Homo sapiens: one gene and its partners. The protein of the gene in region 3 interacts with the protein of the main gene of each other region in a pairwise test. Each region holds a gene or a part of one and is shown on either strand. Other genes may lie near its edges.

What was found. The genes of interacting proteins can lie anywhere in the genome.
Region 1: the proteins of OTUB2 (region 3) and RNF126 interact in a two-hybrid assay, tested with the Homo sapiens proteins (one large-scale study listed by BioGRID).
Region 2: the proteins of OTUB2 (region 3) and TRIM26 interact in a two-hybrid assay, tested with the Homo sapiens proteins (one large-scale study listed by BioGRID).
Region 4: the proteins of OTUB2 (region 3) and ARRDC3 interact in binary tests that used the Homo sapiens proteins (3 or more experiments, as listed by UniProt).

What each region holds. Positions count from the first base shown.
Region 1 is NC_000019.10:656,255-660,444, forward strand, and holds part of RNF126 (E3 ubiquitin-protein ligase RNF126), read right to left. Parts: intron 1-4,190. UniProt on the Homo sapiens protein: E3 ubiquitin-protein ligase that mediates ubiquitination oF target proteins. Depending on the associated E2 ligase, mediates 'Lys-27'-, 'Lys-29'-, 'Lys-48'- and/or 'Lys-63'-linked polyubiquitination of substrates.
Region 2 is NC_000006.12:30,183,495-30,186,910, forward strand, and holds the end of TRIM26 (tripartite motif-containing protein 26), read right to left. Parts: intron 3,065-3,416; coding exon 2,382-3,064; 3' UTR 961-2,381; downstream 1-960.
Region 3 is NC_000014.9:94,036,340-94,039,839, forward strand, and holds part of OTUB2 (ubiquitin thioesterase OTUB2), read left to right. Parts: intron 1-1,040; coding exon 1,041-1,136; intron 1,137-2,623; coding exon 2,624-2,742; intron 2,743-3,500. UniProt on the Homo sapiens protein: Hydrolase that can remove conjugated ubiquitin from proteins in vitro and may therefore play an important regulatory role at the level of protein turnover by preventing degradation.
Region 4 is NC_000005.10:91,372,858-91,377,047, reverse strand, and holds part of ARRDC3 (arrestin domain-containing protein 3), read left to right. Parts: intron 1-279; coding exon 280-427; intron 428-1,434; coding exon 1,435-1,537; intron 1,538-1,869; coding exon 1,870-2,126; intron 2,127-2,771; coding exon 2,772-2,934; intron 2,935-3,171; exon of another isoform or gene 3,172-3,209; coding exon 3,210-3,364; intron 3,365-4,190. UniProt on the Homo sapiens protein: Adapter protein that plays a role in regulating cell-surface expression of adrenergic receptors and probably also other G protein-coupled receptors.

The DNA of each region.
Region 1 (4,190 bases), on a different chromosome or scaffold from region 3:
TGCCAGGATCGCTTGAACCTGGGAGGTGGAGGCTGCAGTGAGCCAAGATTGCAGCAACAGAGTGAGGCAGCATCTCAAAAACAAAAACAAAAAAAAGAAAGAAACAAAGAAAAAAAGGGCTGGGCACAGTGGCTCACACCTGTAATCCTAGCACTTTGGGAGGCCAAAGTGGGCAGATCACTTGAGGTTAGGAGTTCGAGACCAGCCAACATAGGGAAATACCGTCTCTACTAAAAATACAAAAATTAGCTGGGCACGGTGGTGGGTGCCTGTAATCCCAGCTACTCAGGAGCTGAGGCACGAGAATCGCTTAAACCCGGCAGGCAGAGGTTGCAGTGAGCCGAGATCATACCACTGCACTCCAGCCTGGGCCACAGAGTGAGACCGTGTCAGAAAAAGAAAAAGAAAAAGGGAAAGGGGAAGGGGAAGCAGCCAACGACCACCACTGTGGCCCTGAGCTTAGTGTGGGAGCAGTGTGGCTCTGCCACAGTGGCCGTGACAACTCTCCCCAGGCGTCGGTTCTTGGGGTGTGTTTGGGGTGTCGGGATTGGGACGCCCCACGTAAACACGCTGAGACTTCACAGTCAAATCTGAACCCCTGGTTTCTGCCGGTGTCGGGTCTATCGGGGCTCCTCTGGGCTCAGGGGTTGCCGCCGTCCGCCCGCCAGCTGACCGGGAGCCCAGGGCCGCTCCATCGCCTGGGTGGGTCTCTGGGAATGGAGGGGTAGCTCAGGGCTCAGGCTCTCCCTGCATGGTGACTCCCCAGGCTAGCACCACCCAGTGGACCTGGAACAGCTGCACTGGCCCCCACTGAGGGCAGGACGTAAGTCAGCTGTGCAGCTGCCCCGACCACCATCTCTCCTGCTGGGTGCATCCACAAGGTCAGGCAGCCCCAGAAGGGCCTGAGGGAGAAGCTGTCTCCCTCTGAGGACCCTGGCTTGCCAGCCCCAGCCCCGAATCTCTCCTGGACAAGCACGAGGCCCTGCACACGCCCACGTGGCCTGGCACAGCGCTCGGCCGCTCTGGTCCCCATGTGCCGAGCTCAGCCCCTCTGTGCATCACTGGCTTTCTGTCGGGCTCCCGGGTTCCCGTCTCAGTCCAGGGCACAACGCATGCTCCCGCCACCCGCACTGCCGGCTCACGACAGCCCGACCTGGCCACATACACACTCATCTGCCCCAGCCCTGGCCTCCTCTTGGCCCCCGCTGTCCTGCCCGCAGCGGCCGTGGGGCCTGGTGCCACAGCACTGTCCAGAACCCTCTCTCTGCAGCACCCACTCCAGCGTCGGGGCCTGTGCACGTCGGCCCTGCTGCTGGAACGCCCACCCTAGGGGTTTCAAAGGTCACCTCTCTGCTCCAAGCCTCTGCCCTGTCACAGAGGACAGCCTGGACACTCACTCATATCTGAAATCCGGGTGCCATCGAGGACGCCAAGGGCTGCGACCCAACTCCTGCGTATTGTCAGGGCTCTGGGCTGTCTCTCAGGCCCCCGGCCAGCCCCTCCAGGGCCACCGAAGGCCGGAACCGAGGCTCTGGTCACGAAGGCAAGTGACAGGTGGATCCCGGATATCCAGGGTGGAGGTTGAGCCTCTGCTGGCCGACGGTGGGAGGGGCTGGACCTGGGGGTCTCCAGCCGCCCTCCTCCTCCAAGGGCACAGCCAAGAGACCGCTTGGTCTCGTATTAAATCGGGGCAGCTGCAGGTAGAAACGCCTGGGCAAGGGGGCCTGGTGAAGGAGCTGCCCCACCTTCTCCGGGGGCAGCACGCACTGGGGGCCCCCACAGAGGCCCCATTGGAGCCTCTGGCCCTAGCAGAAGACGGTGAATCCATTCACCTCTCCGTCAGAGAACAGATGCAGGAGGTACGATCACCCGGCATCATCACCATAGCAACAGCTGGCCAGGCAGCCAGGGTAGGGGGGACCCTGCCAGTGCCGGGCTCCACCCATGCACCCCTGCAGCGTGATGGCCTCATCCCCGGGTGGGACCTGGCAGGGCAGCAGAGGCCCCTTCATCCACGGGGCCTGCACGGGGCGCATGTCCTGAGGGCCCAGGGCCAGGCGCATGGAGGGGAGTGGGCTGGCGACCTACAGGCCCCAGATGACTGACAGTGACCAGGGCAGGCAGGCCCCTGGTGACAGTGACTCGGCCCCTGTGGGTGGCAGGGCCCTCGGGAAGCTGTGCACATCAGGAGACCCCAGGGAGAGTCATGGTGCAGTGCTCGGCCTCGGTAGGAGCCCCCGTGCTGGCTACTGTTTTCCTAAAGGGTGCCCAAAGCTTCCCGGCTGATCCACAGTGTGTGGGCCCCGCAGCCCCAGAGGCACGGGCACGTGCGGCGCCTGCACCCCTTTCTTCCCGCCCTCAGCAGCTGCCACCACATCCCACATTCACACCGTCTGTCCCTGGGCCCCACGCACCACACACTCCCAAGACAAGCTGGATGGACGAGGCGTGAGCGAAGCCACTGCCTCAGCCCAGGCTGGGGCCCCGCCTCACACCCCAGGGCGTGCCTCGGCCCAGGCCCCGAACTCTGCCTTCTTCTTCCCAGGTGGCTTCAGGCACCACCACTAGGGACTGGAACCCCACAGGTGCCCATCCGTGCCAGTGCCAGGGGTGCTACGGCTCGCCCGAGGCTCAGAGGAAGGTCCTCATGGTGGCAGAGTTCTAAGTGGGAGGAAATTCAGCACCGGCATCTGCCCGAGGCAGACCCCAGCGCCAGCCGGCCAGAGAGGGCAGCCGACATCCACAGGTTCCCGGGGTATTGCTGGTGCCCGATCACAACGCCAGGCTCCATGTTCACAGGGTGCTGCAGGGAGCCCGTTCCGGAGAACCCAGCTGTGCAGAGCCGCTCCAGGGTGCTGGCCGGACGCTTGAGAGGCAGGGGCAGGCTGTCACTGTCACGGTATCTGGCACAACCGCAGACACACAGAGCAAGCAGCGGCCAGAGACAGACCCAGGCCGTCTTCTGAAGACTCGGGCCAGGCCGCCGCAGGGACCAGGAGAAGACAGGGTGGGCCGGGGGGCAGCTGGGGAGACTTCCCGCCTGGCCCCATCAGTGACACTGGCCGTAGCAGCCCTCACTTCCTGGTGGCTCCCCGCCCACGCCGGCTCTTCCCCGCCACCGTGGGCGGCAGGGCCCAGCACCCCCACCGTCCTCTCACCGCCACTTGGGGACACTGCGGAGGTTGCAGGCGTTCGGGGGTGGGGGGTCGGCAGGCAGAGCTGGAACCACCCTAGGAACCACCCAGAGACGGGGAGGTCAGGGGCAAGGACGGCACGCAGGGCCACCTCCCTGCGCCCGCCTGGTTCCTGGGGGCTCAGTGCCCTCAGCAGCTCTCGCCCACACCCTACAGTCACAGCTCCAGTCAGTGCCTCCTCAGCAGGCTCGAGTCTGGGTCTGCGCAGCCGCCTGTGGCCTGAGCTCCAGCTGGCCTGTCTGGTTCCTGCCGCCACACGCCCCACTCTGGCTGACGCTCCCTTTGCTGCTCAGACACCCAGACACCCTCGTCATCGCCTTTTTTTTTTTTTTTTGGAAGGAGTCTTGCTCTGTCACCCAGGCTGGACTGCAGTGGCACAATCTCGGCTCACTGCAACCTCCGCCTTCCAGGTTCAAGCAATTCTCCCGCCTCAGCCTCCTAAGTCACTGGGACTACAGGTGCCTGCCACCACGCCTGGCCAATCTTTTGTATTTTTAGTAGGGATGGGGTTTTACCATGTTAGCCAGGCTGGTCTCGAACTCCTGACCTCAGGTGATCCGTCCACCTCAGCCTCCCAAAGCGATGGGACCACAGGCGTGAGCCACCGCGCTCGGCCTCATCACAGCCTTTCATGGGGGCAACTGCTGCCCCTGTGCCGTCGTCGCCTGAGCCCCCGACCGCAAGTGTGGCTCCCCGCTCAGGACACCCTCACGAGTCACCAGGAGAGCGGCCAGGTGCCGGCCACTCTGCACACACGTGCCCACCAGATGCCACGGGGAGCGAATCGCATCACTAAACCCACTTGGCAGGTGAGGAGACTGAGGCCAAGGCTGCCCAGCAGAGAATGACCCAGCTGCGCGGGGCCTCAGCCTGATCCCAGAGCCCAGGACAGCAAAGGAGGCCCGGAACGGCCCAGCTGCCTGGGAGAAGCCCTCGTGGGCAGGCACACAGCCCATGGCAGCCAGTCCCCCCTGCGTCAGAGGCAGGCAGGAGCTT
Region 2 (3,416 bases), on a different chromosome or scaffold from region 3:
TATGTGCAAGTAGAGTTATACAAAATGAAAAACTATGAATATAAAAAATAAAAAGGGAAAATTTACATGAGCCCACAACTTAGAGAACAGAGAGGAAATATGCTCTTTGCCACTAGCGTAATTTTACAGGTAGTTTCGTATAATCCTCCCTTTTCCATCTTTAAGATGGCAATTTAAAAAATCAGAAAGGACTGCTGGGCGCGATGGCTCACGCCTGTAATCCCAGCACTTTGGGAGGCCGAGGTGGGTGGATCATGAGGTCAGGAGATCAAGACCAACCTGGCTAACATGGTGAAACCCCGTCTCTACTAAAAATACAAAAAAATTAGCCGGGCGTGATGGCGGGCGCCTGTAGTTCCAGCTACTCGGGAGGCTGAGGCAGGAGAATGGCGTGAACCCGGGAGGCAGAGCTTGCAGTGAGCCGAGATGGCGCCACTGCACTCCAAACTGGGAGACAGAGTGAGACTCCATCTCAAAAAAAAAAAAAAAAAAAAAAAAAAAAAAAAAAAAAAAAAAAAAAATCAGAAAGGACAAGAAAAACAGTTGACTGTGTTAGGATGCAAGGCTGAATCTCTGCACATTCTATTTCCTCTGAGGCAGTGCTTATTTTCCAAGGAAGAATTTTTGGGTGTGCTATACTGGAGGTCTCCCTTCTCAGGGAGAGTCATCACTTGCTCCAAAACGCTGGACCTCAGCTCAAGGGCACCACTGCAGGAGGAATAAAAAGGTGGAGCCACGCAACAACTCGTCTGTGTTCCGCAGTAGGCTCTTTTTGAGGGACTTCCAGAAATGACAGCATGTGTGCAGAGAACAGAAAGCAAAGTTACACTGTTACAGAAGGCACAGAAGGAAAACCTTCGGCTACTGCTATCAGTGGAATTTCTCTGTAGCCAGACTGAGGTCTGGTGGCATTTGAGATATAATATAGATATAGACCTACAAATACAGATCTCCAGGCTGTTCATTCAACAAGTCTTTATTGAGCACCTACTCTGTGCCCAGCACTGCACTAGGTGCCATGAGAATACAAGAGTAGTATAAGATGTTATCCGCCCTCCAGGAGCTTACAAAACTAGAGGCAGAAATAAGATGTACATGTGACTCAGGCAGCATGTGACACACACAAAGTGGGCAGCTCTGAGACAATGGTGGTCAAGTGACCACTGAGGCCCAGAGCCGTTGGAACAGTCTCTTAGAACAGGGTGGAGGACTTAAAACTTGGATGAACAGGGGCTGGCAGAGCACTTGGAATGGGTAAGGACAAGACTGGGAGATCAATTTGGCTGGAGCAGGGGAGCTTGTGTTAAACTGTGATGATGAGGGGCACCTGGACAGAGGTTGGGTCCGTGGGCAATGAGAAGACATGTTACTCCCTCTCTTGACATGAAGACCTGGTGGGCTTGTGGCCTCCTGCTGCCTTCCTTTCCCTGTCTTCCCATCTCCACTCTCTCCTAGGAAAGTGGAACCTGGATGCTGGTAGGGCCAGAGACAGAGGCTTAACACCCTGCTGGGGAACCCGGTCAGAACTCCCGAGGCAGGAGAGGTTCTGCTCCACTGGATGTTTGTCTTGGTGTTTTTGGATGTGCTGATCAAGAGCAAGATGTTCTGGATTCTTAAAACTCCCCTCACAAGGACCAATCTAGAGATAATTTATTGATCAGTGATCACAGCTTGTACCCCAAAGCCGTGTATGTCTGGATCCTTCCCTAAGACCACAGATAGCTCCAGGGAGTCCCACCTCCTTGGCTATGGAAATATGCTCAGCCCTGGTTTCAGAGAAGCCTGGACTCCACTCTGGACCCCATGAGATGATATGCGCTGGTACTCCAGGCTTTAAATGGCCTGGGAAGCCTCAGTGGATTTTGTTTATTTTCAGCATTGCCATGTATGCTTAACTCTGAGTTGGGGTGGGGTAGGTCTGTTTAAAATGCCAGGGAAGGTGGGCAGCAGAGTGGATTTGTGCAAGAAGGAACCTGGGGGGTTTAAGGACAGCAAAATGATCTTAGGCGTAATTGACTGGTTTTTCTGAGGTCTTGCCACACTGGGCAAGAAAATGCTGCATCGGGCCCTTATTCCAGAGAGTGCAGAGCTGGGGCCAAGGTCGTGGTCAAAAAGGAAAGGAGCCCTCATGGACTCCAGGGTCAGAAGTTCCCTCGGGAAACCAGCAGGAGGTGGGAAAAGAGCCCCATTAGGGCAGTAGATGGAGCAACAGCACTGAGTGAGATTTCAGGGGGCCACAGCAATGGGGAGGTGGCTACCAGTGGATATGGGGTCCCCTGCTCCAGGTGCTTAGGCCAGGCATCCCGTCCCCCCATTGAGAGTCCTGGAATTCCAAAGAAGTGAAGCATCTGAGGGTTGGGGCTGGGGGCAGATGTCAGGGCTCAGGGTCTTAGCAGGAGGCGTGTTCCTGGCCACTTGAGCCACAGGAAGGGGACCAGGCGCCGGGTGAAGGTGGCAGTGAAGGTGTAGATGAGTTCCTGTGACTCTGCGTTGGTGAAAGTCACGGTGCCCCCTTCATAATCCAGGGCGATGCCCACTCTCCGGGGCCGCAGTGCTGGGAAAAGCTCAGCCTCGGGGCTGGTGTTGGCCCAGATGCCGGAGGAGGAGAGGCGCAGCGCCCACACGCCATCCTCTGGCCGCAGGGAGAGGTCTCCCTTCCTCTTCACAGAGTCTCTAGCCACCCCCACCATGCAGCTTTCCAGAACTTCCTCCTCTTCCTCCTCCTCTTCTTCCTCTTCATCGCCCAACGATTCCTCATCTTCGTCCGTTTCCCAGTCGTCATATCCATCCCCATAGCCGGCCTCCTCTTCCTCCTCCTCCTCTTCTCCCTCTTCCTCCTCATCCCCCTCTTCTTCATCCTCAGACCAGCCCTCCCTCTCCACTTCCACTTCCCAGTAGACCTTGCCCCAGGTGAAGCCCTTGCTGCCTAGCACCCCAGGCTCACAGTCAAACTGCTGGGGGTGCAGGTAGGCACTCTTGTACAGGCTGGTGTAGGTCACGCACTTCCAGTCCTCTGACAGCTGCAGGTACCCACTGGCCGACTGTGGGTCCAGGGTGACGCTCACTGTGGGGACAAGGGAAAAAAAAAAAAACAGCATCACTGTTTTGTTTTGTTTTTTAAGTCAGAGGGAATAAAATTTATTTTGGCAGATAGCGTTAAACAAAATTAAAGTTGCATACATTAGTAATATAACTCAACATCCTTAATTTGGTATAAGTGTGACACATTTTCTGGCTTTGTATTCTGCTAAATCACCATAACTAAACTGCTTTATAAACATGATATACTGAAATTTAACTTGACTGTTTTCGCTTACGCTCTGATTCCAAACAAAACTTTTCATAAGCTTCCTCTATCTCTGGATCTCTGGGTCCAACTCATCATTAATATCATCCAAGTGTGGATCACCAGTCCC
Region 3 (3,500 bases):
TGCTCTATTGCATAAAAATGGTCTCCCTGGGTTGTGTGCAGGAGCCAGCCTCATTTATTTTAAGCTGTAAACTATAAGTGGCTTTAACACCATGTCTCTCACAGTATGTTCATGCTGCAATCAAAGCGGCTCTGGGTGGGTTGGAGGCTAGAGTTGCATCTCCTGCTTGTTTGAGCCCTGCTGACAAGATAGCACAAGGCGGAGACCAGGCCCACGGGGAGTTGGCTGCTAGAACGTGTCTCCTGCAGTTTCCTTCACCCTGAAGCTTCCTTTTGCAGTTGCCTCCTCTCTGTCCGCCAATTTCTTCTCTGGCCTGGAGAGATCCTGCCTGTAGGAGGCTTGTCTTTCTGGGTTGGAATTGACCTAGACCCAGAGCTGGGCTGTAGTGTAAACTTTCGCCGGTAGGTGGTGCATGAAGATGCCCTCCTGCCCTGTGCTCCCCGAGCTCAGATCTCTGACACCTTCTCTGGCATCTCCATGTACCAGTGCCACACACTGCGGCCTCTTCTGGTGACCTTATCACCCCCTATCTTGATTGTTTTTCCCTGTAGACTGTGAGCCTTGTGGGTGAGGGAGTGCTAGACGTCCTTCCTTCTGTATTTCCAGCATGTGACACAGTGCTGGGCATGTGGATGTTCAGGAATTGTTGGATGAGTAAAAGAATGAATGAACGAATGAATGAATGCATGAATGAGAGAAGAGGGATGGAAGGAGACAAAGGGCCTTATCCTCCAGCATGAAGGTTCGTTAAGTTTGAGGTACACATTCTGTGAAATGAATCAGGCTTCCAGTAAAAAGATGAGTTTCCTTATAACCAGGGCTATCTCTTCACGATGGCCCCGACCCTGACTATCCCTGTTCTGGAAATGCGGTGATCCCAACGGGCGTCTAGGATGCTGGTAACATACTCCCAGCATGAGAAGGTGGGAAGGTCTCATTCATTGTTGTCTGTAACCGGCAGTTCAGAGGCCACCAGCTCGGGGAGTCCCGTCCGTTGCTTTTGAAATTGTCACAGCATTTCTTCCTTCCCTATCTTTCAGAGTGAAACATCTTTCAACCTAATATCAGAAAAATGTGACATTCTATCCATTCTTCGGGACCATCCTGAAAACAGGATTTACCGGAGGAAAATCGAGGTGAGGCAGAGGGCAGGGAGAAGAGCATCCGAAACTAAACAGGCTGGAGTTGGGAGTGTAATGGTGATGCCTCTTTGAAGGCCGATAGTTTGGGCCAGGTTCCTGGGCAAATGAAAGGATTCCTAGGATATTTTGATGTTGGACATTTGCCTTAGCGATAAATCCTTTCATTCCAAAAAAAAAAAAAGGATTTTTTTTTGTTGAAAAGTTTAGCACTATCCTAATGTTTTATTTACTCACCAATACTTCATTACAACTCTGTGAGGTAAGTACTTTTATTACCCCCATTTTACAGCTGAGGAAACTGAGGCACACAAATTAAGTGGTGGCCATTTAGTTCATGAGTGGCCAAGCTAGGATTTAAACCCAGGCAGCTGAGTCTCAAGCCACATTCATAACTGCTGTGCTGGGAGACCTCTTGGAGGGAAAGTTTACGCCAGTGAGGCTAAAGGGATTTGTGGGAAGGCTGCAGGGATCGCTCATGGAGCACTCACCCGTGGATGGCAGGAGGAGCTGGGTGCCCACTCTGTCCCTCTGGTAGGAGGCCCTGGCCGCTCTCTGCACTCTGCAGGTCTTCCTCTCGCTGCAGGACAGGCTTGCTCTGGCACTGGCCCCACAGGCCCTTCCCTTCAAGTTCCTCTCAGACACGCAGCACCGTTGCTGGGCCTCATTACTTATCCTCAGAGACTCTGATAGGTCCAGCTTGGGTCAGATGTCCATCAGCAGCCAGGGGTAGTGGTGTGGGCATCATGTGATCCGAACGCCGCTGCGGGGCACTTCCAGGGAAGGAGCTGGGCTCTGCAGCCCACTGACTTTTGTGTCCCCCAGAGCCCTCCTGGGAGATGAGCCAGGGGCTCCAGAGAGTGCCTGCCTCCCCACTGCCAGCTGGCCTCAGGTGGGCCCAAGTCGGCTCTGAGCCTTCTCATGGCTATGGGGGGAACAGGAACTCCAAGACCCCTTGAAAACCATCCTCTGCTGTCAAAATGCTGCTTATAGTCCCATGAGGCAGGAAAGGGGATTCCAGGCCAGTTCAGAGGGACACCTACTTACTGCTAGGAGTGGAGCTGGAGCCCACCCCTCCCGCCCCTGCTCACACATGCAACCCCCTACCCCCTACTTCTGCCAGCTCCCGATTCTCAGTGCTGCTCCCCCAGGAAGGCTTCCCCAACTTCCAAAATCCAGTGCAATGCCAGTGCCCCGTGGCACCCAGCCAGGCACTCCTGTCCCCTCACAATGCCACTGTCTAATTATCCATCTTCCCTCCCGGACCGTAGGCTGCCTGGGGGCAGGGACGGACACACAGGACAATGCAGTGTATTTTTATATCAGGGGAATGAACGAGGGTGGGAGGCTGAGGGGATAGCAGCCTGAAGGGAGGGAGCAGACATTTCCTGGGAGAGATGGGGGGCACCTGGCCAGTCCCAGTGCCCAAACCACACAGAGCCGTTGTTGGTGCAAATGCCCACATTTCTTTCTGTCCCCCTCAGGAACTCAGCAAAAGGTTCACCGCCATCCGCAAGACCAAAGGGGATGGGAACTGCTTCTACAGGGCCTTGGGCTATTCCTACCTGGAGTCCCTGCTGGGGAAGAGCAGGGAGATCTTCAAGTGAGTGCCGGGGCCCCTTGGCCTGTCAGGGCTGTGTTCTCTGTGCTAGGTCAGCCTCAAGTCTCTCGGAGGTTTTCGTTACACTCAGGCTGGTTAACCCAGAGAATGAGCTGAAGAGCTGCCTGGCAGAGGCGTTTGATGTTGGGGGTGCCCAGCTGCCTGCTGTGGTGAAGTTGGGGGCAGCCAAGGGGTGGAGGATGGAATCTGTGACCTCCCAGATGCTTTCCAGCCTCTGCTTCCACCACAGGCCTGGGTCAGCCCAGGTGAGTCGCAGGGAGCAGGTACTTCGTGACCCACTCTGAAAAGAAAAGAAAAGACAAACAAAAAGAAGCTTTGCCCCGGTGTTCTGCATAATTCCTGTTGACCTTGGTGTGGAGTGTGTGTGACCCAGGCATTCAGCTGGCTGGGCCTGTCCCTGAGGTTCATGCTGGAGAAGGTCTGTGTCCAGAGCTGCCCCTGTCATCTCGGCTAGTTCAGGGCTTCTCATATCTGAAGTTTGTACAAGGCGCCTGGTTCTCTAGTCCATAGCAAGAAAAAAAAAAGCAAAGACAAACAAACCCCTGAGACCTGGCTTGGACCCGAATTCCTGTCCAGTGGGAGCAGGGCAGAGCAGGGACTGCTTTTGTCACTGGCTCCCAGGAGATGCTGATGCTGCTGGGCCTCAAACCACGCTTTGAGGAGCAAGGAGCTAAGAGACCCACCTGGCTCTTAACCTTTGGGGGTCTCAGAGCCCTTAGAGGCTTTGGTGAGGGCCATGG
Region 4 (4,190 bases), on a different chromosome or scaffold from region 3:
TTGCCACCATCATTAAAAGTAGCCTCCTCTTAGTTTAAATGGATTGTATTCTTCTGGCTTTTTAAAGCAAAATTTTAAAGATATTTATTGTTTATTCTTAGTTGGAAATAGGAAGTTTTTTCCCCAGTGACTTATCCCTTTGGAAATTTTTTAAATTATATGTTTGATACCTCATTGGAACATAAACAATACAATATATTAACACTTCTATTCTGACCTACTGTGTAATTGTTAGAAAGAGGTATAAAATTAATATATTGACCTTTATATTCTGCACAGACCACTCGCTACCTCATTCGAAGGCCGACATGGCAGTGTGCGCTATTGGGTGAAAGCCGAATTGCACAGGCCTTGGCTACTACCAGTAAAATTAAAGAAGGAATTTACAGTCTTTGAGCATATAGATATCAACACTCCTTCATTACTGGTAAGAATTGACTGAATTATTTATTCTTTGTTTTTGGCATATAAATATTAAAGAATAATCAATCACCTAAACTATGCAGTTGTCATAATTTAAAAATACTGGTTTTCTTTTAAAATTTCATAAATATACATTTTCTTAAATACAGTCAAGAACACTGAAATTAATGAAAAATATGCTCATATTTTTGACATTGTAGTATACCTTTAAGTAAATATAAAACTAAGACCAGTATATGATATGAAGTATCTCTTACTCAGAGTATGACAGCCATAACAAAAAACAGATCTGGTCCTTGGATGATTTGAGTGGAAGAAGAGCAGTAGTATCTTTTATTATAATACAATATCACTTACTTGACAATATCATAATCTAAAATTTGTACTATACTTTGTTATTCCAATAGAGGGATAGTTGTCAAATAATGGGGAATCATTAGTTTCATTAAAAAACTCCTTTTTTAAAGAAATCTATTTTTAATTGCATTTGTCTGAAAATAATTCAAATTTGACTTAAAACTTTATTTGATTTAAACAAATGGTAACATCTTTAAAGCACATAAGAAATGGGCATTTTCCTTTTTTACATATTGATTTTTTAATAGTCTCAGAGAAAGATGTTAACATTTGGAATTATAATCAGATTGCTTTCTTTGCTGCCTTTTTAAGGCAGTTTAAATGGAATGTGGAAAGGGTTTTTTTTATTTGGTTGGTTTTTGATTACTATATTTGTAAATAGTGTGAGCTAAAAAACTATGTTTATGGGATAGGCTGTAAACCCTTTACCTTTTTTTTCTAATTGAATGGAAATTTATATGAAAATAAAAGTAATGGTATAATTCAAAACCATCGGTTAGTTAAAAAATAAGAAGTATGTCTGGATACAAAAAAAAAGCAAAACCAGTTGTAATTTTTAATTTTCCATAAATTTAGGGTTATATTTTAAAATATTCTGGTATTGATTGTACCAATCCATACACTGACCTTTTTCTCTTAATTTTTTTCTTACAGTCACCCCAAGCAGGCACAAAAGAAAAGACACTCTGTTGCTGGTTCTGTACCTCAGGCCCAATATCCTTAAGTGCCAAAATTGAAAGGAAGGGCTATACCCCAGGTATGTAAGAGGTAGATTCCCACAAAAAACTTTTCTTCACTTAGCTTTTGTGTTTAAATTTATAATATGACTACTAAATATAAACATAATATAGTATTCTTTTGTGAAATAACAAATTGTGCTTATCCATTTGTTTTTTTCACAAAGTAGAATGTAGTTTCCTTTTTCAAATAGCTACTGATTAGTTCATTTCTATGACTCAAGTTATTTGCAGTTCCTGGGACATCTTTTCATGTATGTTAGTTGCACTTTCTTACTTTAGCTTTAAGAATCTTGACTTCTTTTGTTGTTTTTTTCTAACAGTAGATATGTATATATTTTTCCCTCTCTAGGTGAATCAATTCAGATATTTGCTGAGATTGAGAACTGCTCTTCCCGAATGGTGGTGCCAAAGGCAGCCATTTACCAAACACAGGCCTTCTATGCCAAAGGGAAAATGAAGGAAGTAAAACAGCTTGTGGCTAACTTGCGTGGGGAATCCTTATCATCTGGAAAGACAGAGACGTGGAATGGCAAGTTGCTGAAAATTCCACCAGTTTCTCCCTCTATCCTCGACTGTAGTATAATCCGCGTGGAATATTCACTAATGGTATGTACACATTTAAGAGGTTTTTTCCTTTCTTTTTTCTTTTTTGAAACACCTGTCACCCAGGCTGGAATGCAGTGGCACAGTCTCAGCTCCGCTACAGCCTCTGCTTTCTGGGCTCCAGTGATCCTCCCACCTCAGCTCCCAAGTAGTTGGGACTACAGGTGTGCCTATAGCCATGCCTGGATAATTTTTGTATTTTTTGTAGTGATGGAGTTTGACCATGTCGCCCAGGTTGGTCTTGAACTCCTGGGCTCAAGTGATCCATCCACCATGGCCTCCCAAAATGTTGGAATTATAGGCATGAGCCACAGTGCCTGGCCCAAGAGGTTTTTGGTGTTTTTTTTTGTTTTGTTTTTAAGTCTTAAAGTTATGACATAGTTTTGTCTTACATCCAGGATTTGATTTTTTTAAATTCCATATATAGTGACATATAAAATACATAACTCTTTATATAGTTTGACTTACAATTATACCTTATATGTAAATGTACTATACAGAATTATACATAAAAGAGAAACTTTTCATGTATGTAAGTTTAAAAATGAAGTAAATGGGGGTTTCAAATAACATTAAAATTGGTTATGAGTTTTTGAAAAGGAAATCATACTTGGCATTCTAAACTTAATATTTCTTTGCAATGTTTAGGTATATGTGGATATTCCTGGAGCTATGGATTTATTTCTTAATTTGCCACTTGTCATCGGTACCATTCCTCTACATCCATTTGGTAGCAGAACCTCAAGTGTAAGCAGTCAGTGTAGCATGAATATGAACTGGCTCAGTTTATCACTTCCTGAAAGACCTGAAGGTAATTTGATAATACACGTCTAAGCTTAATCTCTTACTACTATTATCAAGAAAATTATTTTGCCTCTGATATTTTATGACCCTAGATGAACATAATCTTTTCCTAAAGAAAGTAGATGTGCCCCTAATATTCAGTTTTGATTATATGTCTTCATAGTTTTGATCACCAAACAATAATTATTTTACCTTGACGTTGCTTTTTAATACCTACTATTCTGTGTATTTTGACATGCATAAGAACATGCTGTTCGAATTGCGTGTATCTTTTTCCTTCAGCACCACCCAGCTATGCAGAAGTGGTAACAGAGGAACAAAGGCGGAACAATCTTGCACCAGTGAGTGCTTGTGATGACTTTGAGAGAGCCCTTCAAGGACCACTGTTTGCATATATCCAGGAGTTTCGATTCTTGCCTCCACCTCTTTATTCAGAGGTAAGTACCTACTCCTTAAGTATGAAATGAACTGGCTATCTTGGGAAATAGCATTGCAGGCATTTTTTTTTCTTAATGTTATTAGATCTTGATTATCATGTTAACAGAACAAATAATTTAAAACAACAGATTAAAAGTTAATATTAGGTTCATCAATATTTACTAAGTTTGATGCAGAGGTAGGACTGTTCACTTATTAGGGAATTAAGATAATGATCTAACCTCATGTTGAATTACTAATTTTTTTTTCTCTTAAACTTTTATCTTGAGACACATTTTTTGAAGGAAGAATTTTGTATATCCAAGCATCAATAGGAAGAACTAGCATTTTGCAAACACTGATTAAATAGTAGAATTTATCTTATTCATGATGCTTTTCCAATTGCATATTTTGACATTCTCAGTCATAAGAAATAATGTATTTGTGATAACATCTTAAAACAACATTCCCACATGGTTAGACTATTTTCGTTCATCTCATATTGATGGCAGCTAAGCACTTAAATGTAAATAAAACATGGCCCTTAGGAGAAACCCACAGATTACTGAGGAAAACAAGCTAAGAAGCAAAATATTATGTAATAATGTGATAAAATGCACAGCTCATTTGAGAAGCAGCTTATTAGGTCTTGGGCATCAGGTGGGGCTTCTTGAAAAGGTGACTATTAAGCTGAATTTTGAAGAATGAGTAGTCCTCAAAAGGCAGGAAGAACAGTGTATGTAAAGACAAGGAGTGAGTAGGTGGGGTGTCCAGTAATTTCAGGATATTTCAGAGTGACTTTAGCCACTAGTACACATTTTTAAGGGGTTTTGGAGTTGGTTTTGA